Linked DNA regions of Homo sapiens: all the other regions are reported to be linked to region 1. The links are microRNA targets in miRTarBase. Many come from high-throughput screens and were not tested one by one. Region 1 holds a microRNA gene; each other region holds the end of a gene's coding sequence.

Evidence for each region. The annotated mature microRNA hsa-miR-381-3p reads UAUACAAGGGCAAGCUCUCUGU and lies in region 1 at 2,931-2,952, opposite strand. An mRNA with a match to its seed (bases 2 to 7 or 8) in the 3' UTR can be bound and repressed. Matches are read on the target gene's strand: a 7mer-m8 pairs with bases 2 to 8, a 7mer-A1 pairs with bases 2 to 7 and ends in A, and an 8mer does both.
Region 2: miRTarBase lists ARL1 as a target of hsa-miR-381-3p. Seed matches in the 3' UTR shown: 7mer-A1 at 3,275-3,281.
Region 3: miRTarBase lists UTP15 as a target of hsa-miR-381-3p. Seed matches in the 3' UTR shown: 7mer-m8 at 3,233-3,239.
Region 4: the mRNA of LURAP1L is a reported target of hsa-miR-381-3p. Seed matches in the 3' UTR shown: 7mer-m8 at 645-651 and 7mer-m8 at 1,392-1,398.
Region 5: miRTarBase lists CLTC as a target of hsa-miR-381-3p. The part of its 3' UTR that is shown has no 7-base or 8-base seed match.

The regions. Positions count from the first base shown.
Region 1 is chr14:101,044,852-101,048,919 of GRCh38, reverse strand. It overlaps MIR381 (microRNA 381), which reads right to left and starts at 3,000; the gene lies at 2,926-3,000. MIR381HG (MIR381 host gene) reads right to left here and starts at 3,763. Exons shown (of 3, transcript NR_104192.1): 1 at 3,736-3,763. It overlaps MIR487B (microRNA 487b), which reads right to left and starts at 2,465; the gene lies at 2,382-2,465. MIR539 (microRNA 539) reads right to left here and starts at 1,599; the gene lies at 1,522-1,599. It also overlaps MIR889 and MIR544A. RefSeq lists enhancers at 2,154-2,654, 2,655-3,155.
Region 2 is chr12:101,392,015-101,396,082 of GRCh38, forward strand. It overlaps ARL1 (ARF like GTPase 1), which reads right to left. Exons shown (of 6, transcript NM_001177.6): 6 at 1,102-3,656. The coding sequence ends at 3,626. Among named protein-coding and RNA genes, the nearest start is that of ARL1, 14 kb to the right of the region's middle.
Region 3 is chr5:73,579,646-73,583,713 of GRCh38, reverse strand. It overlaps UTP15 (UTP15 small subunit processome component), which reads right to left. Exons shown (of 13, transcript NM_032175.4): 13 at 334-3,837. The coding sequence ends at 3,620. Among named protein-coding and RNA genes, the nearest start is that of UTP15, 16 kb to the right of the region's middle.
Region 4 is chr9:12,821,152-12,825,219 of GRCh38, forward strand. It overlaps LURAP1L (leucine rich adaptor protein 1 like), which reads left to right. Exons shown (of 2, transcript NM_203403.2): 2 at 235-1,909. The coding sequence ends at 609. Among named protein-coding and RNA genes, the nearest start is that of LURAP1L-AS1, 8.8 kb to the left of the region's middle.
Region 5 is chr17:59,693,028-59,697,095 of GRCh38, reverse strand. It overlaps CLTC (clathrin heavy chain), which reads right to left. Exons shown (of 32, transcript NM_004859.4): 32 at 140-3,368. The coding sequence ends at 3,244. Among named protein-coding and RNA genes, the nearest start is that of PTRH2, 12 kb to the left of the region's middle. RefSeq lists an enhancer at 345-394.

The sequences.
Region 1 (4,068 bases):
CATGTGAAAGTGAACCCTTGTTCACAAACCAAAACATGGCACGTTGATTCTGGGCCGTTCTCCCACGATGGACGGTATATGGCATGTGGGGAGACAGGCGACACATATCACAGGGAAAGCACCTGGTCTCCAGCCCCAAACCACTGTGAGTGTTGTCCACAGACCGGCGGTATTAGCATCACTTGAGAACTTGCTAAAAATGCAGAATCTTGGTCCCTGAATCAGAATCTGCTTTTTAACAAGATCCCTAGGTGATGAAAATCTTAGGAGCATTTTTAAAGTTTGAGAAACACTACTCTAGCCAACTATTCATATGCACACGCACACAAACACACACACACACACACACACACCCCAGAGGTGCTGTCGACCACAACGTCTTATTCCATGAGAGTCTGTCTAAGATGGGGTGGTTCCCAAGGAAGGCACGAAGCCATGCCACGTCCACCAAGAATAATCCAAATACCCAACAGGCAGCTGCTTAGGAGCTGCCAAAAAGTAGTAATAGTAACAGGAAATGTACGGAGTTTTTACTAATGTTTGCATTCCCTACAGGAAGTGTTTCATACTCAGAATGAAGGCTACAGATAGGAGAGGCTGGACCCAGGTTCCCCGGTCCACCATCTACCTAGAGAGAGGCTTGACCCCGGCATCTCTCCAAGGAATTCCTCGTGGCTAAGATTTAATAACAAGAAGAGAAAGAGAGATGAAATAATTGTGAACATCTTCCAATAAAAAGATATGGCACCAAGCCCCTAAATGGCATCTCCACCCCAAAGCTAGCATTTGTCCAAGGAAATCACACTGGTGGCTTGCATTCTGAGATCACTGGATTCATCATTATAAATCATCAACACAGTCACACTCCATGGTGGGGCAGGCACCAATGTCCCCTCACTGAAGTCAGCACTGTGCTTTCAAAAACTTCTGAAGCAAATTTGGATACTAAAACAATGGTTGTCCGATATTAATCATCATAAATATAGAGACCATACTACGGACAGCCATTCTTTAAGCACCAAAGAACTGTGCCATCAAGAAGAGCTGGGCATCTTCTCCAAAGTTGGTGTCTCTTCCAGAAAGTTCTTCTCAGGTAGTCCAAACAATGAGGATTAGCAGGTCAGCTTCACACATTGAGAGTCAAGCCCATGCCTGGGGGTCAGTCACACTCTTGGGCAGGGGAAGGGGGTCTGGCCCCAATGATCGGTCCCTAAGGTTTGCTTCATGTCCAAGAAGTGCCTCCAAGAAGCAGGATTTGATAAGTAGCTTGAATGCTGCGTCACCCACAACACACACCCATGGCCAATGCAAATCCCTGATAGCACCAAGGAGTCCCGTGGCCCCCTGCCAAGCGTGGCCCCGCCTCCAGGGTTCTGAGGTTAGGGCACAAGTGTCCCCACCACAAACCAACTGCATGCGCCCTCATCCCCACCCAGGCGTGAGCCCCTGGGAAGGGCTGATGCGTGCATCCCTTTACAGAACTTGTCATGGCGTCCAGGAAGTCTGCCGAGGCAAGATTTGATACTCAAAAAGAAATTGTCCTTGTATGATTCATCATAAATAAAGCGAACACACCAAGGATAATTTCTCCTCAAGTATGAAACAGCAGCACGGACCACCACCTCCAGGTCTTTGGCTCAAGGTTAGATGGTGACTGCTTCGTGGCAAACCCAGTCACACACTCGCTCATGCACACACACCACGCACACACAGGCATGCACAATGCATGCACCAAGTTTGACCTCTCTTTAAGCACCAGGGAAGCAAGATGCCATAGAATCCTCACTCAGCTTGGCATCCTCGCTCAAGACTCCTTCAAAGCGTAGATAGTGGCCGAGGTCAAGAACCCAGGGACTGTCTCTCTTAAGTGGAGCAAATGTTCTCGGCACCCCTGCTGACCCCCACTGCATGTGGCATTCTGTATCAAAAGCCACTGTGTGAATGGCTTAGCTGCCAAGCATCAAGAGCATCACTAGCCCCCATTGTAAACACCGTGTATGCTCTGGGCTTCCTAGTCCATTCCATACCCGATGAAGGACTTGACTTCCATGTTTTGACACTGTTCCAAAAACCCATGGAGAGATTTTAGTCATAAAACCACCACCACCACCACCACCACCACCACCAATGATAGTTTCACAGCACACAAGGGTCCTGGCTACCACCTACGAAGTGCCGACCACGGGGCTCTGCTCTGAGCCGTGTACAAGTCTTAACTCGTTCAGCCCCAGCAGCCCCAAGAAATGGACGCCAATGTGATTCCCCTTTGACATGTGAGACAATGGGCACAGCACGATGAGATCCTTGCCCAAGGTTGGACGGTTAGTAAATGTCAGAGGTGGGATCCAAACACAGGAAATCGAGCTCCAGAGTCTGCGCTCTTGATACTGAAAAAGTGGATGACCCTGTACGATTCGACATGAGCAAAACGAACAGGACAGGGATAACCACTCTCCAAGTACCAAAGGTTAGCACGGAAAAGAAAGCCACTGCCTTGGGTGGACTTGGTACGTCTTCAAGGCGCGGTCCTGGGGATGAATTAGATGCTGAGGGTTAGTGGACCGGGTCACATACCCCAAGCAGAACATGCACACTCACGGACCGAGTAACAGCAGGGACCACAAAGCCACTACCCCACACGAGCGCCACCCCAGCCATCGGCCCGGGCTGATGACTTCCCGCTCAGGAAGCAGGGACCCAGACCACACACATCGTGCATGCTTTTGGCCCCGCCCACACTGCACCAGGAGAGGGGATGTCCCAGAGGCCACTGCCTTCCCTAAAGTCATCCAGGTGCCCGTGAAGTCCTCTCTGTGAAGTGGGGACCCGTGAACGATTTGCCACACACAAAACGGATACACACGGTCATGCACACACATACCGCATCCCTTGCTGAGTGTGGACTGGGTCCAAGACAAGGTTTGATACTCACAGAGAGCTTGCCCTTGTATATTCCATGTCAATAAACCGAATATACAAAGGGCAACCTCGCTTTAAGTACCAAACAATAGCACTGGGCAGGTTCCTCACTATCATTCACGGGGCCGGCCTCCTCTCCCGGGGTTCATCCTGGCGGGGGAGGGGGTGGGAGATGCGGGATCAGCAGACCAGGTGGCAAACACCACCTGCCAGCTGTGTGCCCATAGGTCAGCTCTCCATCCCAAAGGGGCCAGGAAGGGGCAGACGCCAGTGCCCCTTCACCAGAATCAGCCTCTTTTCCAGGCATCACTCCAGATTAGAACTTGTTCCTGAAAAGGAGATCCACCCCACGGGCCTTCCTGGGCACACGCAGAGCTCAGCTTCTCACTTTCTATAGGAATTCCCTGGGGTGGGACCACCATCTCCTTCCCAGTGTGGGCACCTCTCCAGGAAGTTTTCCTAAGGATGCACTCAGCACCGAGGTCCCAGGCACTGGATGAATTTACACCTTAGACAAAGCAAAGGCCCTGTGGTCACCATCCCTTCATCCATCTCACAGAGCCGTTGACACCAGTGTCATTCTCCATGCCAGCCCTTGCCCCACCCCTGCCAGAGGCTGGCATCGTGGCCATGAAGCCATGCTAAGAAAGAGCACAGGGTCAACAGTAGTAAACCCCACGTACCCCCAAGTAACTGAGGAAGCAGACCCACAGCCCATTCCCCACAGTGGTCTCTCCTTCAAGAAGGGGAGAGGAGCGGGAGCCGCCTGGTCCAGGTGGCAGGTTATGTGACTCATTACCCAGGCGTGGTGCTCACCTCTCTTCAGCTGGACGTTCGCTTTCCTTGGGCTGAGGATGCTGCGAATGTCCTTCCTGAAGCTGGCTTCGGGTCCAGATGACCCCCATGGCAGTCGGGGTGTAAAAAGCCGGCAGTCACACGGCCCAAGGAGTGTCTCCACAAACACAGAACAAGAGTCCCATTCTCAGGCAGCCATCCTAGGTGTGAGCAGAAAGCCAGCAGTCAGAGACGGGGCACAGACATCGAGGCAGAAGCAGGCGCCCTCTGACCTCCCACATGCACGCACCTGGTGCGGGGCTGACAGCTCCCACGGCTCATCCCCAGCGCTGCCTTCATGGGCAATCACAAATG
Region 2 (4,068 bases), not on the chromosome of region 1:
GGGAACATCACACTCTGGGGACTGTTGTGAGGTGGGGGAAGGGGGGAGGGATAGCATTGGGAGATATACCTAATGCTAGATGACGAGTTAGTGGGTGTAGTACACCAGCATGTCACATGTATACATATGTAACTAACCTGCACGTTGTGCACATATACCCTAAAACTTAAAGTATAATAAAAAAATAAAAACAAACTAAAACTGTAATAAGTCACACTTATTTAGAGGTGGCTCAAGTTGTTTCTGTTGTTCAACCACATAGCATCTTTTGCCTCACCCTATACTTGATGTGGAAGAAATATTCTTTAGTGCCCCATATATTTGGGGACATATGGGGTGGGAAATCCACCCTATGTGCCAGGCACTTTGGATACATTTTGTTTAATCCTAGTACTCCTGAGAGATTTCTACAATTGGTTCCTATTTTACAGATGAAGAAACTGAGACTCAGAGTAAATAACTTGCCTAAGGGTGATACAGGATGTAGGTGCTACAATCAAGATTCAAAGTCCATGCTTTGAGCTGAGCGTGGTGGCTCACACCTGTAATCCCAGCACTTTGGGAGGCCAAGGCAGGTGGATCACTTGAGGTCAGGAGTTCGAGACCAGCCTGGCCAACATGATGAAACCCTGTCTCTACTAAAAATACAAAAATTAGCCGGGCGTGGTGGCACGGCACCTGTAGTCCCAGCTACTCAGGAGGCTGAGCCAGGAGAATCGCTTGCGCCTGGGAGGCAGAGGTTACAGTGAGCCGAGATCGTGCCAATGCACTCCAGCCTGGGTGACAGTGAGACTCCATCTCAAAAAAAAAAAAAAAAAAAAAAAACAAAAGTCCATGCTTTATAATTTGTAATTACGGGCTTAGAATATGACAGTATGTGGCACAGAAATCAAATGTTCATTCACTTCAGCATCTGTGCTTTGATGTAGTGTGTATCTCAAACGGGAATTCTCACGCTTCTAAGGGCTTTGTAATTTATCAAAAGGAGGCCATCTTAGAAGACTGATTTTAATTAATTCTAAGTGACTTAAGTGCATGTATTGCTTTCATAAAATTTTTAAAAATAAAATACTAAGGCAAAGATCAGAAAGGACAAATATATCTGGCATATTGAAGACGTCTTTGTTTTTAATCAATACATATTTATTGAGTGCCTACTGTGTGCCAGGTGCACCACACTAGATGCAACGGATACTAACAGTAAATAAGATACGGTCCCTGCCCTCAGAGCTTACATTTCAACAGTTTAAAGTGCATCTCAGGTATTTCAGATAACAGAAGTAATTCTACCACTCTCAAATTTTTTTTTTTAATGCAAGACACAACACAATCATAGGCCAGAGTTATAAAATACAATGTTAGAAAGAAACGTTTGGTATCATTCGTCCAGATCCCATTTTACAGAAAAGAAACTACAGGAGTGGCCATTTGCACCTATGTTCTGATTTCAAGTTTGGTGTTTTACCCATTGCCAGGCCTCTCATAAAACAATATTCAGATTTGCCATGTATATATCAATATCCAAACGCTGGTAGTATACCTGTGCAGTTGTCTCCTGCTAGACAAGGACCATATAATTTATAGCTTATTTAAGTGTCCACTTTCTTTATCCCATCCTATTCTTTGTGATAAACCAGAGGGATCAGGCTTAACCAAGTGCTGAACTTTGGGGCAACTTCATGCCCTAGGATTCAAGATGGCCAGCGGCTACATGCCGGGTCTGCCTGCCAGGACCTTACTTCCCATTTTTTGCAGTTTTCCTGGACTGCCGGGAGGCAGCTGTACAAGCTTTATAAGCCTCAGGCTGTAAGTGAACTTGCTTTCTGCATTTTCCAGCCATGTGCCATTGACCAGGAGTGAACTCAAGTATAAATTGCAAAGGGCTACTTGTCAAGATGACAAATATCTATCCTACTGTTTCAACTATGAACATATTCTGAAATGCCATATGCCAGGCGCCATACCAGATACTAGGGACATAAATATGAAAAAGTCTTTGCCCCTCAGGAGTAATATTGGTTGTACTGGAACATTTGTAGCTGAAGGAAAATCTCCAAAAAAGATTTCAAAGAGACTAAAGTAGGAATGGGTGCTGGAGAATGAGCAAGAAGGGTGAGAGTCCCACGGGTGAAGGGAGAAAGCAGCAGAGAATGAATATAAGCCCGGAGAATGAACATAAATGTGAGGGGAAGAGGCCAGAGGCCAACACTGGAAGGACAGTGAGGGCCAAGAAAGGAACTACTAATGTTTCTGAGACCTGCAGGGAACCATGGTATTAAGCTCTCATTACCAGCACCTAATTTTTTAGAGGCTGGTTTTCCAACTTAAGTGAAAGAAATTCACCCTGTTTTTAGCAATTATGACGCACTATATTTACTTCTGTCACATTAGCTGATTCTGTGGTGGACTGGGTAATTTGAAAAGCTCCTTTGAACATGAATTGTTTTTAAACTTACAGTCTAGCAATAAGCCTAATTTTTAAAACAGAATGCTTAATTTCTCCCTGTACAATCAGTAAGATTTTGATTTTTAACAAGTTTACATGTCCAATTACATGTAGATAAAAGGAATGAAAACCAGTAAAGACACCTTTTATAATCTGAAAATAGATTTTTAAACCTTCCTTTAATGTGAAATTTTCTCTTTAATGTGTTATGAATTCTATCAAATATAACCATTTAGGATTATTTATAGTATGTCACTGATCACTTCTACTAGTATAGACAAATAAATTTATAAACATTATTTTGAATGTAACTAATTAGCATAATTTTATTTAAGAGTTAGACTGTGTTGTCAATACTGACATTTTTGGGAATATATAGTATAGTTTATGAGTCAAGCTTCTGAACCAAAAGTTTTACTTTGAGCCCTATTCCTACCTTACAAGCTAGCAGGTGACCTTGGGCAAGCCAACCTATTAGAACCCTGGGTTCACGTCCATACAGTGAAGACATCATAACCTGTCCTACCTACTTCACAAGCTTCCTCTACCGATCAACTAGATCAATATATGTAAGATTTTTTTTGACAACTGTAAAGTACTATAAAATGACACTTACAGATAAGTCAGTGAAGTTAACCATCAAAACAATATTCATGCCTATAACCAAAAGCTTTTAAACAAAACAGCTTAATAAAAAGTGGTCAGGTAAGCAAATAAAGATTATATTACACAAACTATGTTCCTCACCTACTCTCATACTGAGTCTAATCTTTGGAAAGATAATTCATTTTAAGGGGAAAAAAATCTGTTAAGATATTTTTTAGTATTTATACAAACAAGCTGCAACTACTATTCAAAAATAGGTTTTTTTCATCCAATAGGAGTATACTCTTTAATAGAACTGTATTTGAATAAGAATTCCATACAAATAGAATATATACCTTAACACAAGAAAGCAAGAAAAGAATATTTTACATTACATAGAACATTCAGGTGATTCGATCAAATTATCCCTCCAACTAAATACTTATTTTCCCTATTTACTACAAATATTGCAGTCAGTCAGTATATGCCAATAATCATATAGTTTTAACATCTAGTAGTGTGAAGTACACTTGACTGTTTCCAAAGGGAGAGAGGTGATGTAGTCTTCATTTCAGGGGAGAAGAATGGACTGAATTACTGTCTGCTTTTTAATGTTTCAACTAACCTGTAAAGAGAAAATGAACTGTTTTATAAAATTAATTTTCAGGTATAAAGCATGATCATCTATAATAAACTTTGTATTGGAGGTGGATTCCAAAGTACTTAAAATGATGACAGCTAACACAGATGAGGTTATGCACTAGATATCCATAAGGTTCCTCTAAGCTTTGAATTTGTCTATGATTTGAATGAAAAATTCAAAAAAGACCAAATACCTATTTTCCAGGCTACTACTACTTCTGGGCTACATATGGATGACTCAGAGGTGAAACTAGTCTCAATCCTCAAGGAGGTGATTATCTAATGAGTAGATGAACAAATCAAACTTACAAGACAGCAAAACAAGTACTATGTCACTAATCTGTGACAAGGGCATCTAACTTTAAGTGAGTGATTAGGCAGTAGGAATAGAGATA
Region 3 (4,068 bases), not on the chromosome of region 1:
TCCATCTCATTTAGCACCACGTGACCCCACTACATATGTACTTGTTCACTGAGTATCTCCCCTAATCAGAATATTGAGGGAGATATTTTGTCTATTTTGTTCATTGCTATAACCTTGATACCCTGGCCTCTAATGTGTCTCAATAAATATCAGGACCAGTGGATTAGTGTTTTCAGAGTCATTTGGTTGTAAATAAGAGAAAACCACTCACAGTCAACTAAGCAAACAAGTGTTAGAGGGAATCCAAAAATATCATGGACCCCTGGGGGAAGAGGTACAACCAGAATAGGGCAATAGGAAGTCATCAGGAACTAAGATGGTTTCTCTCTCCTCTAGTCTGAACTATTAAAGCAGGATAATCTTTATTTTCTTTGCACTTAGGTTTCATTCTTGTTCATTCTCTACAAACCAACTTTCTCCGCTGATGACCTAGACATAGCATTCCCAGCCTCCCATTTTCCCAGATCAGGAATTTCATTATAAATCCCAATTACAAATCCCTGCTTAGAGAAGGGTTGAGTCAGTTGTACCACCATGGTCCAGTTAACTATAGCTGAGGGAACAGGCATGCGGCTTTTTAATGTCTAAGAGGGTATTTTGTTCCTAGAAAATGAAATGCCCTCATTGAGTTGAACAGACTAAATTTGTTTTAACAATCCCATTTACAATTCAAATTCCTTTAAACAACTTAATAGCATTTATACATTTAAAAAAATGATTCTTTTAAGCAGCATTGCAAATGCTTGACCCCATTAGCATAAACCTTCCCAAGTGCTTAAATCTCATAAACATAATAAATTAAACATACGGTGACTTTCCAAGTTCTCTGAAACATTTCAGTACTTTTGCAGACTTAGTAACATTTTAAAATACCTTTCAACTGAAACTCATAAGTCTAAAAGTCTGTTAAGCATTTTAAATTAGAATCTTAAGGCCAGTGTCACATATTGTAATATGCCAATTATGTTTAAATACTTCAAACAGCAAATACTACAGTTTATCTCAATGAATATAATAACCATTCCTGCTGGGCGCAGTGGCTCATGCCTTTAATCCCAGTCATTAAGGAGGCTGAGGTGGGAAGATTGCTTGAAACCAGGAGATTGCCTCAGGCCTGGGCAACATGGTGAGACCTCTTATCTCAAAAAATCAAAATAAAAAATTAGCTGGGCATGGTGGCTCATCCCTGTAGCCCCAGCTTCTCAGGAGGCTGAGGTGGGAGGATAGCTTCAGCCTAGGAGACAGAAGCTGCAGTGAGCTATGATCACACCACTACACTCCAGCCTGGACAACAGAAAGAGACCTTGTCTCTAAAAACAAAACAAAACAAACAAACAAAAAAGTACTCCTGAATTTAAGTATTGATGGCTATGGGAATTGCTTCCTAACCTGTTTGAAAAATGTGTTAACTGTTACATATTTTGAGAACTGCAGCACTCAGTGAAGCTTTGTTAAAGGGAATGAGGAGTTTAGGCCCCAGCAGGCAAACCACTTCACAGTGCTAGGATGAAGAGCTCACACTCAGGGACTTCGAGAGTGAATCAACTACTTTCGTTAACTCAATGTTAAATGAGAATAACATCAACCTTGGATGGTTGTGGTGAGAATCAAATGAAATGACATATGGGAAAACCTTTGTCACATGTTACACAATTGACGGCAACTACAGCTTTAGGTAGAATTTCAACTTCTAATTTTTACTACTATGCAAATTATCAGAATATTTATGATGTTAACTTTTTAAAAAGGTTTTTAAATAGAAACTTTATTTAAATAAATGAACTCTTCTCAACCCCAAAACCCAGCTTCTGATCTTGACTAAGTTCATAATTACTCAGGGAAAAACACTGCTGGTTCCTTATAAGCCACTGTGCTGTACGAAATCAATTCATGAAAAGGAAACGCCCTATTTCCAAGCATACCTGTACTAGAATATATTAAGTATATTCACTTAACATATTAATTTAAATGTTAATGTTAGTCTAAATGTTAAATTAATTTAATATGTTAAACTTAATACGTTTATTTAATTTTTACTTAATACCCTTACTGGAACATATTAAGCATTTTTTCGGCTTAAAAAAAACAAAAAAACAAAAAAAAACCCTGAATTTACAGAACTAAAATTATGAGAGGAGATTCGCATTACAAAATCTTCCTCTATGGGTTCTTCTAGCTCAAGACATTTTTCTTACTGATTTTTAACTACTTGAGTTGGCGTAATAATTAGAGAAAAGCAGGAGAGGTAGCAACTGTGAAACCAGTGTACTAGGAGTTACTAGCCAATGATTATCTATCAGGAACAGATACATCAAAAAGCCAAGAAAATAAGAATCTCTCTTTATAAAAAAATAATAGTTACAGGCTGGACACAGTGGCTCACACCTGTAATCCAAGCACTTCGGGAGGCAGAGGCAGGTAGATCACTTGAGGTCAGGAGTTTTAGACCAGCCCGGTAAGGTGAAACCCCGTCTCTACTAAAACTACAAAAATTAGCCAGGCGTGGTGGGGCACACCTGTAATCCCAGCTACTCAGGAGGCTGAGGCAGGAGAACTGCTTAAACCCGGGAGGGCAGAGGTTGCAGTGGACTGAGATTGCATCACTGTACTCCAGCCTGGGCGATAAAGCGAGACCCTGTCTTTAAAAAAAAAAAAAAAACTTCTAAAAAATAATTATTTACATTAAACTTTTAAAAACAACTATTTTTCAAAGCAAACTGCTCTGCATTGGGGTTCCGAAATACAATATGATTGTGAATAATGGGGGGAGGAATCTAAATACAAATCAGAGAAAACAGTTTTCAGAGGATTAGGTAGCTTAGCTACAAGATTAGCTTGAAACATATGAAGAATAGTCTGAAAGGCTGTTGTAAGAAAAATGACAAATTCTATCATTCCTCTGACCTGAAACAAGGTGAAAACTTGGTAGAAAGGCTGCATGAAGAAAAAAAAAAAAGTAGTCCAATAAGGTCTATCTGTAGAGCTTGCTCTCACACTCTGAATACAAATCTAGCTAGTGTCAGTTCTTCAGAGCCGAAAACTTACTTGCCACACTTGGAACCGATGCAGTCCCATTACCAGCTGAAGCAGGGCATGTGATCTAAGACAAGTGTAGATATCAAGGAGACAGGAAGCAAGCTAAGCAAGGGCCTAGAAATCCCAAAGGCACTGATTAAAGTCAAGAAAGAGGCTTTTTGTTGTTGCCAATTGTTTTTGTTGTCTTCCAGAGGTAATACAAGGCTTTGCTCCTTTAGCAGGATTCCCAGTTGGACCCTCTCCAGAGAGGATTCATATTTGAATTCCCATCTGAATACCAACCCAAATGTTGATACAGAACACTCCTGTATTAAAATTAATATCCATCCCAGATAAACCTACTCTGTGACTAAGACAATTGAGATCTTCTAGGTGAAGATGCTATAATTCAAAATATTACATGGAAAACCATGTCTTACTTAAAACGGGTACTTGTTTTCCGGCCATAATTATTCCAGTCTCTTCCACAGAACTGCTTCTGCAAACAGTTTTTTTAATGTATCAAAGAGAGTCTCTCGCCAACATTTAATACAGTCAAATCTATTCCAACTTCAGAGTTCTTATATGTCTTATTTAGCAGACACTATGATTCTATCTTCTTATTCTCTGGAAATCCATCAGATGTGTGTTCCAACACAGAAGTGCCTTCCTTCCTTCTCATGGTGGCAAAAAGCATATCCATCATCCCCAAGGTTTCTAACAATTCTCTTTGGTAATCAATCTCTTTTTCTACAAGTCCTTGAAGTAGTAAAAACTTTTTATCAACTACAGGGGACTGACCAATTACAGGCAGATATATATCTAAAAAGAGAGAAAGAAAACACATTAACTAGCAATATCTTTCCATACATTAAGTGAAAAGCAAAAGTTTTTAAAAGTATAAAAATATTAAACATAAGAACACTGAAAAATCTGTACTTATTTTATAATTAATTAATGATTTATAGAAAGTATAACAATCCCTCTGAGTAAATTAATTTCAAAAAATAATAATTACAGAAAGTATAGGGTGGAGTTCCTGACTTATTTTCA
Region 4 (4,068 bases), not on the chromosome of region 1:
CAGGGGTTTTATTGTGCCTTTTGGAGCCTGATGCATCTGGCAGGAAGTGAGTTTTTTTTATTATAACTCCTACCATCAGTCAGCAATTATCAAAAAGTTCCTGACAACCAGTCCACTTATATTTTATTCTGTGAATTTAAAATTCTGAACTGCAGCAGACAGTCCCCAGATGAATTTGAGGCCTTTCGAGAGTGTAAAATGGCTGGAATATCTTTCTTCTCTCTTTGTCCATAGGTTAACCTCAGAGCCACAGACGTCAGGCTCATGCGCCAGTTGCTTGTAATCAATGAGAGCATCGAGTCCATCAAGTGGATGATCGAAGAAAAAGCCACCATTACCAGCAGAGGCAGCAGCCTCAGTGGCAGCCTGTGCAGTTTGTTGGAGAGTCAGAGCACCTCCTTACGTGGCAGCTACAACAGCCTACACGATGGCAGTGATGGGCTGGATGGCATTTCCGTGGGAAGTTATCTGGACACGTTGGCGGATGATGTCCCAGGCCATCAGACCCCTTCAGACTTGGACCAATTCAGTGACAGCTCCCTCATAGAGGACTCACAGGCACTACACAAGCGTCCTAAATTGGATTCTGAATACTACTGCTTTGGCTAGTGACAGTTTTTTGCATGGGACTGGTGTGCAATGAACTTGTATTTATCCTTCTTCTCCGCTGCTATATTTTTGGTGTGATTTTTATTTTAATAAGATGACCTTTTTAAAAGAAGCTGATTTTGAAACTGCTTAATGGTATTGCTGTTGCTCCTAATACTTCTCATCTGAGCTGATTTATTTTTCTCTGTTACATCTCTATTTTTTATTTATTACAATGATTTTCTCCCTTCTTTTACAGTAGCACAAACAAAGTAGGGGGAAAAGAATAAGCAATAATTATGTTTTTGCTTTTGTTTTCAGAGCAATGGGTCAGGGATTACAAGAAAAACTTTGCTAAATTTTACAATAAACCAAAGTCTGATAACAGTTAATGTTGCTGCTTGCGTCCTTAAATGACTTAAGGTTTCATCTTCCAGAAGATATTGAGATATATTACTGTTTGCATATCAGGTTGAACAAAATGCTTGGAACAAAATTAAGCATTATTTCTAGACCACAACATTCTAGTGTATAATCAACCATACTGTTAGTCACACACGCCCACATGACAATCATCTGAAAGTCCCCAACTATACACATTCTGTTCAACCAACTCACCCTTGTGTTGGTACTTTAGATTAACATTTTGTCATCAGTGATTCTAACTCAAATCATATGTTTATTTGTGTAATAAAATGTATTATTCTCCCAAATTTCAAGGAATAATTGAGATTAAGTATGGAGGCCATTCAAGGCAAAAATGTCCTAAATTTAATTGCATTTTGAGATTTTGTTGGCATTTACTTGTATGTATTTTGTGATTCTGATAGGATGTATAAATACTTAGATGCATACAAGCCGATGGATAGAAAGACAGATAAATATCCCGATAGCCTACTATCAGCATCCTACTACTGCTTCCCTAAAGCAGAATTGTTATTCATTTAAGAAGTCTAATATGATATACATTCATCCTAGTATAAATAAATAATCTCTAAGTTTTCTGAAATGGAATATTTAACGCACATAGACAGTGGATATTTACTTTAAATATAATGTTATTAATCCTCTGCATTTCTTTTATCTTGATAACTCCTAGTGAGGGAATCTAATTAAGATTTCATGCTGTTCTTTGTAATGATAAATGTTTCCGGACTAAACACTCTATAATACAAATCAAAAAATCTTCCTTCTTATAACTGAGAAATGTTTCACCCAAATTTCCTTTGTTATTATATATTTACTACACATGTTGAATTTATTATTGTTTATTTCCAAGGCATGTATTATTCAATTTCTAATTAAAATATATCAGGGCTTATATTTTGCACTGATCTTTTCCCATAAGTCGCTTGATATAATCCTCATCACAACAATCTCATAATGTGAGGACTGTCATCATCCTATGTTTGAGGAAATTGAGGCACATAGAAGGTAGGCCACTGAGACAAGTCTCCCAGTAAGTGTCAAAGCCAGGATTTAAACTTGCATCTGTCTTATTCCTAACAATAACACTCAATAACCTCTTTGGTAATTATTGATGTTAAATAATAAAATGGGAATGAGAAAGCAAATGTAAGCTCATAACAAAAATTAAAAATGTAACCAACCAATTTCAAACAGAAGATAATGAAATATGTAACCATATGTCCACAACCTTGCAAGGAGAATATCCTCAACTACAAAGAAGTGGCAGGCTGCAAGAGTGTGAGGCATCAAAGGCAAATTCTAACTTCTTTAAAACCTACCCTTTGCCTTGAACAAGCCATGCACATGAAAGGCCATTTCTGTTCTCAGATCAGTTTCAGATCGTGAATACAATCTGGTAAATTTCTGTTACATTCTTCTCGTGCAACCCGCTTCCCCTGCTATATGGCCACCCCATGCCCTCTATAAATTTTCCCTCTGGAGAAAGGAAATGCAAAAAGCACAAGAGTATAATGTGGGAGAAGTGTCTGGAATAGTTTTCATTTATATATTGTATTTTAAGGAAACTATAATGAACATTGGCAGAACACTTGAGAATGTTTTTGGCTTTATGAGTTTCAATATTTTATATGCTTTACATTAATTCCAATATTTTTTGCAAGATAGCAAATAAAGATTCCACCATTTACATATATGGAATCACATGTAAGCCAACAATTTTTTAATAATTGATTTTACTAAAAGGAAGGCAATAAACATTTAAGCAACACTAACTGTTAACATATTCATTGGTCTCAAGAGAGTGAGTGCATAGGAGTGCACCATTTTTAACTGAAGAATCCCCATAACTAATCTCTGACCTGGACCATTTGATATTTGATCTCTGTCAGCACCAGAAGGAAAAGGGGTAAAAAGTTATAGTATTTTTTAAACTATTCTGCCTACACTGAGTTGTGTCTTCCCAGAGAAGATGGAATTTTCCTGAGTTACATTAATCTCTCAATTTTTATGGACTTGTTAGTCTTTTAATGGATGGAAAATAATTAGATGTAAGGAATTTAGACAAGTTAAAACTAGTACATTTTTGGAGTTTTGCAAATAAAGGAACTCTAGAAGACCAACCTAGGAGTCTTAACTAAACTTCAAGGAAACAATGTTTATACTACCAGCCAGCCCCAAAGTACATAGTGTAAAGTTTTAAGTATTCGTCAATGTTTGGAAATGCAAAAAACATTATTTACTGTGGGTGGACTATAAAGGTACTTGGAGCCCACAAATAATTGCATTCAGGCATTTGTTTCCACAACTTCATAAAAACACATACACTTTGGGAGGCCGAGGTGGGCGGATCACAAGGTCAGGAGATCAAGACCATCCTGGCTAACACAGTGAAACCCCGTCTCTACTAAAAATACAAAAAAAATTAGCCAGGTGTGGTGGCAGGCTCCTGTAGTCCCAGCTACTTGGGAGGCTGAGGCAGGAGAATGGTGTGAACCCGGGAGGTGGAGCTTGCAGTGAGCCGAGATCAGGCCACTGCACTCCAGCCTGGGCAACAGAGTGAGACTCCGTCTCAAAAAAAAAAACACACAAAAAAGAAACACAATCACCTCCATGATGACAAAATAAATATTTTTTTATTTTGTTTTGTTTTGTTGAGACAAGGTATCGCTGTGTCACCAGGAAGAATACAGTGGCACCATCATGGCTCACTACAGCCTCCAACTCCAGGGTTCAAGCAATCCTTCTGCCTCAGCCTCTAGAGTAGCTGGGACCACAAGCATGCACCAACATACCTGGTTAATTTTTTATTTTTTGTAAAGATGGGGTTTCACTATGTTGCTGAGGCTGGTCTCAAACTCCTGGACTCAAGTAATCCTTCCACCTCTGCCTCCCAAACTGCTGGGATTACAGGCATGAGCCGTCCTGACAACCAACAAATGATTATTAAGCCTAGCATAGTGGCACATGCCTGTTGTCTCAGCTACTCAGGAAGCTGAGATGGAAGGATTACTTGGGCCCAGGAGTCTGAGTCCACCCTGAGCAACAAAGCAA
Region 5 (4,068 bases), not on the chromosome of region 1:
GAGGTCGAGGTTCAAGGGTATTCCCACTAGAGGCAAGCTGCAGTTTGTTCCCCTGCTGTCACTTTTTGGGTGACTGATACAGCCACCCTCAATGGAGTCCCATGGTTTATAACCTGTTTAAATTTTGTCTCCAGGTTGAGTTTTATAGCATTGATACAACCTACTGTGCAGTGTTTCATGTTCACCTTCCCTGACCCATACTGGCCAAAGGTTAATCAGCAGTGGTTCTAAATCACAGCCTATTAAAGTTTCTCACTTCCCCCCTTTCTTGTAACAATGAAGCCACTGAAACTTGAGTAACCTTATGGACCTTAACAGATGGAAATGGGTGGGCCCAAGTAAGAATTTATGGTAACTGTAAAGTGAACGTAGTTTGTCATCCCTGCTAGTATTTTTTCCTAGAACTAACTTTGACAATTAAGGGTGCCTTTTTTCCCTTTTGATCTTTAGATACACTTGATACAATCCTAATAATTACTATGTTATACCAGTTACCCAGAATATGAGGCAGAGGGTCCCAACTCCCCAAGCCACATAGCTTCCTGATAGTCATCTTGTTAGAAACTATTTAAGCCTTCTTTTAGGAGGATACTGACAGTAATTTCTAAAATCAGTGTATCCCCAAGAACTGTAATGATGCCAGGGAGAATTTTGGTAATAGGCCCATTTTAAGTGGCTCCACCTCTCTATGGTTAACTGCAATATAAGCAGCGTTATAGCACCATCTCAAGGTCTAAGGTCATTGGTGGAGTATTGTGGGCAGAACACTAAAGACAGCCTTGAAATTTCTAATATTTGATTCATTTAATACACTTCGCACAGGCATATGACAGCACAGGAGAAAAATTGCAACTGTGAATGATGCCACAATAGCAACTATTTCTAAACAGAATGTTTACTGGCTGCAAAAGTGATGCAACAAAATGCAACGTTAAGACTGAGTTGAACTCAGTGCTAAGTGCATGATTCTGGCTCAGGTAATTTCTGAGGTTTGCCTCAGATAGACTGATGGCTCCAAATTCAAAGGTAGTGGCATTCCCAACAGGATGGCATGGGGTGGCTAAGTAACTGTCATGGCATATCTACTAAAAGGAATACTATGAAAATTCTGGTAATTGTGGATATATGCTTGTTTTCTAGTTCATCTGTACTTGGTATTTTATAGAACTCATAATCTTATAGTTTTCAAAGTATACTCTGCAGAACCCACAGGGTCTCCACAGAGTCAATGTTTTCATAATACTATTATTATTTTTTTTTTCTCTGTGTTGATATTTGCACTGAGGGTGCAAAAGCAGTGGTGGGGAAAACTGATGGCACCTCCCACAAATCAAAGCAGGGGCACCATTGTATTCTTCACTGACCTGCACTCACATTAAACACTTTCACTTAATGTCCTGGATGAAACTAAATAGGTTTTTTTGTTTTTTGAGACAAGAGTCTCATTCTGTCACCCAGGATGGAGTGCAGTGACGTGATCTTGGCTCACTACAACCTTTGCCTCACAGGTTCAAGTGATTCTCATGCCTCAGCCTCCTGCCTCCTGAGTAGCAGCTAGGATCTTATAGGCATCCACCATCACACCTGGCTGATTTTTTATTTTTAGTAGAGATGGAGTCACCATGTTGGTCAGGCTTGTCTCGAACTCCTGGCCTCAAGCAATCCGCCTGCCTCAGCCTCCCAAAGTGCTGGGATTACAGGCATGAGCCACCACACCTGGTGGGACAGGGATTTTAAGTTTTAAAAAACTCTTCTGTGGAGCTTATGTTAGGTAATTTGCCTAAGAGAGTTGTAAAGCAGTGCAAGACTAACTAGGCAAGGGGGTATGTGTAGCTATTGAGGATTAAGGGATAGTGAAATGAACTTTAGGAACATTCTCAGCCATAAGCAAGAGCTGGATTCACACAACCAATTTTTGAAAAAAATCAAGATACCCATAATTTGGGCACCTTTATAATTCATGATGAGAAAGAGCATGTTAACTACATGTTTAAATATATTTTATTTCAAGTTAATATAACAGCCATGATTTGTTCATTTAAGTGAAATGCTTCGATAAAAACCTCGGTGTCACTTGGTTAAAATATTGGAGACAGATTAAATGTTAAGCCACTATAGTAGTGACTCTGGTTCTTTAGACTATTGCATGTACCTTGTTAATGAACTACAGGAATGCACATTGATATAATGCACAATGTCTTCACATGTCTCAATCCTCATTCCTCTTCCTTTCATGCCTCCCTAATGCCTCAGTATCCAATATAAAACTACAAAAACTACTGTTCTTTTCGTTTGAGTGGTATTTAATTAAAACTTCAATTCTATGTTATTTCCACAGTCCAGTAATTTATTTTAAATTTGAGTAATTTCAAATTCCACAAACAAAACTGAAGAACAGCAATATTTTGTTTGAATTTCTCTCTTCTGTACACTCAGTGATCTAAAACACCACAATATCCAACATACACAAACCTCAGGGAAGGGTTAGTAAACACACACAAGATTGGAATCATGGTGCTCTTTGCTCCTGAATGGAATGGTCCCACAGAAAAAGCACAGGATACAGCACAACATAAGGGCACCTGTTACATATGAAGTGAGCAAAACATACTAGCATTTTCTATATGCATAATGGGGAAACCTGCATAGGTTAGAGGGCCTTTTACGCTCATTTAAAAATCAGGCAAGTTGTCTGTAACATTTTTCAATAATCTGGGAAGCACTGCAATCCAGTGTACGATGTGCTGATTAGTGTTGTCTTTGTTGGCACTGACAGTCTTGCATGGTCATATGCCAGTGTTTTTGCTTTAGCTTTTCTTTGAATAAAACAGATTTAAATGCATTTAGACAATACGTATTTGTAAGCTGTTTACATACACTAAATTTAAGAGATTCAATATTAGAGTTTCTTTGTTTCTTTAAACACTACAGAGTGCAAATCAGGTTCTTCACAACAGATTGAATATTGAGCAGTTCTTTAAAGAAAGAGGGGGAAGAAAAAAAGCCCAAGTGAATAAAACATTGAAACTATTCCCCTTCGAAAATAAATTCTAAAATGATGTGGAATGTGAAATAAGGTTTTAACATAGGTGATCCAAGTTTATAGTTAGAAACAAAAAGAAGTCCTTCATGAAATAAAGGTTACAAGAACACGTTGCCTGTTTTCCCCCATTATAAACTGAGAAGTGGGTAAAGACGATGTTTCAGTACGAAAATAGGTGACTACAGGATCAGCGCTTCATCTCACATGCTGTACCCAAAGCCAGGCTGTGGCTGTCCATACGGTGGTGCGGTATAACCATAACCAAAAGGTGCCTGGGGAGGGACGGCAACACTGGGTCCTGCTGTCAGCATCAACTGGGGCTGACCTACAGTAGAAGAAAACAAAAAGGAGCAGGGGGCAGGGGCAAGGAGGCAGGACAAACTGTTAGCATTTAGAACACTCCAATCTCCTCCACTCTAGCAACATAATCTCAACCTCAAATGAGTTGTATGGGGGGCACATTTGATTGCTACAATTTTAGCATGACAGTCTTACTCTAAGAAGGTTCCTACCTAAAAAGCCAACAAACAGTGCAGGGCCAAAGGCCAGAACTGCTTATGACTGAACACCGTATGCCTGACACTCTGTATACTTGACACATACCTACATGCATATTACACTTCATGACACAATAAAATCAGCACAATAAAAGAATTTTTTAAAAGACTTTTTAAAAAAAAAAAAAAAAAAAAGAATCTGGCTCTGTTGCCTAGGCTGGAGTGCAGTTGTGTAATCTCGGCTCACTGAAACCTCTGCCTCCTGGGTTCAAGTGATTCTCGTGCCTCAGCCTCCCGAGTAGCTGGGATTATGGGTGTGCGCCACCATGTCCAGCTAATTTTTGTATTTTTAGTAGAGACAGGGTTTTGCCACGTTGGCCAGGCTGGTATTGAACTCCTGGCCACAAGTGATCAGCCCATCTTGCCCTCCCAAAGTGCTGGGATTATAGGTGTGAGCCACCATGCTTGGTCTAAATGACATGTTTTTAACATAACTTTTAGAGTTACATTTAAATTTCTGATTTAAAC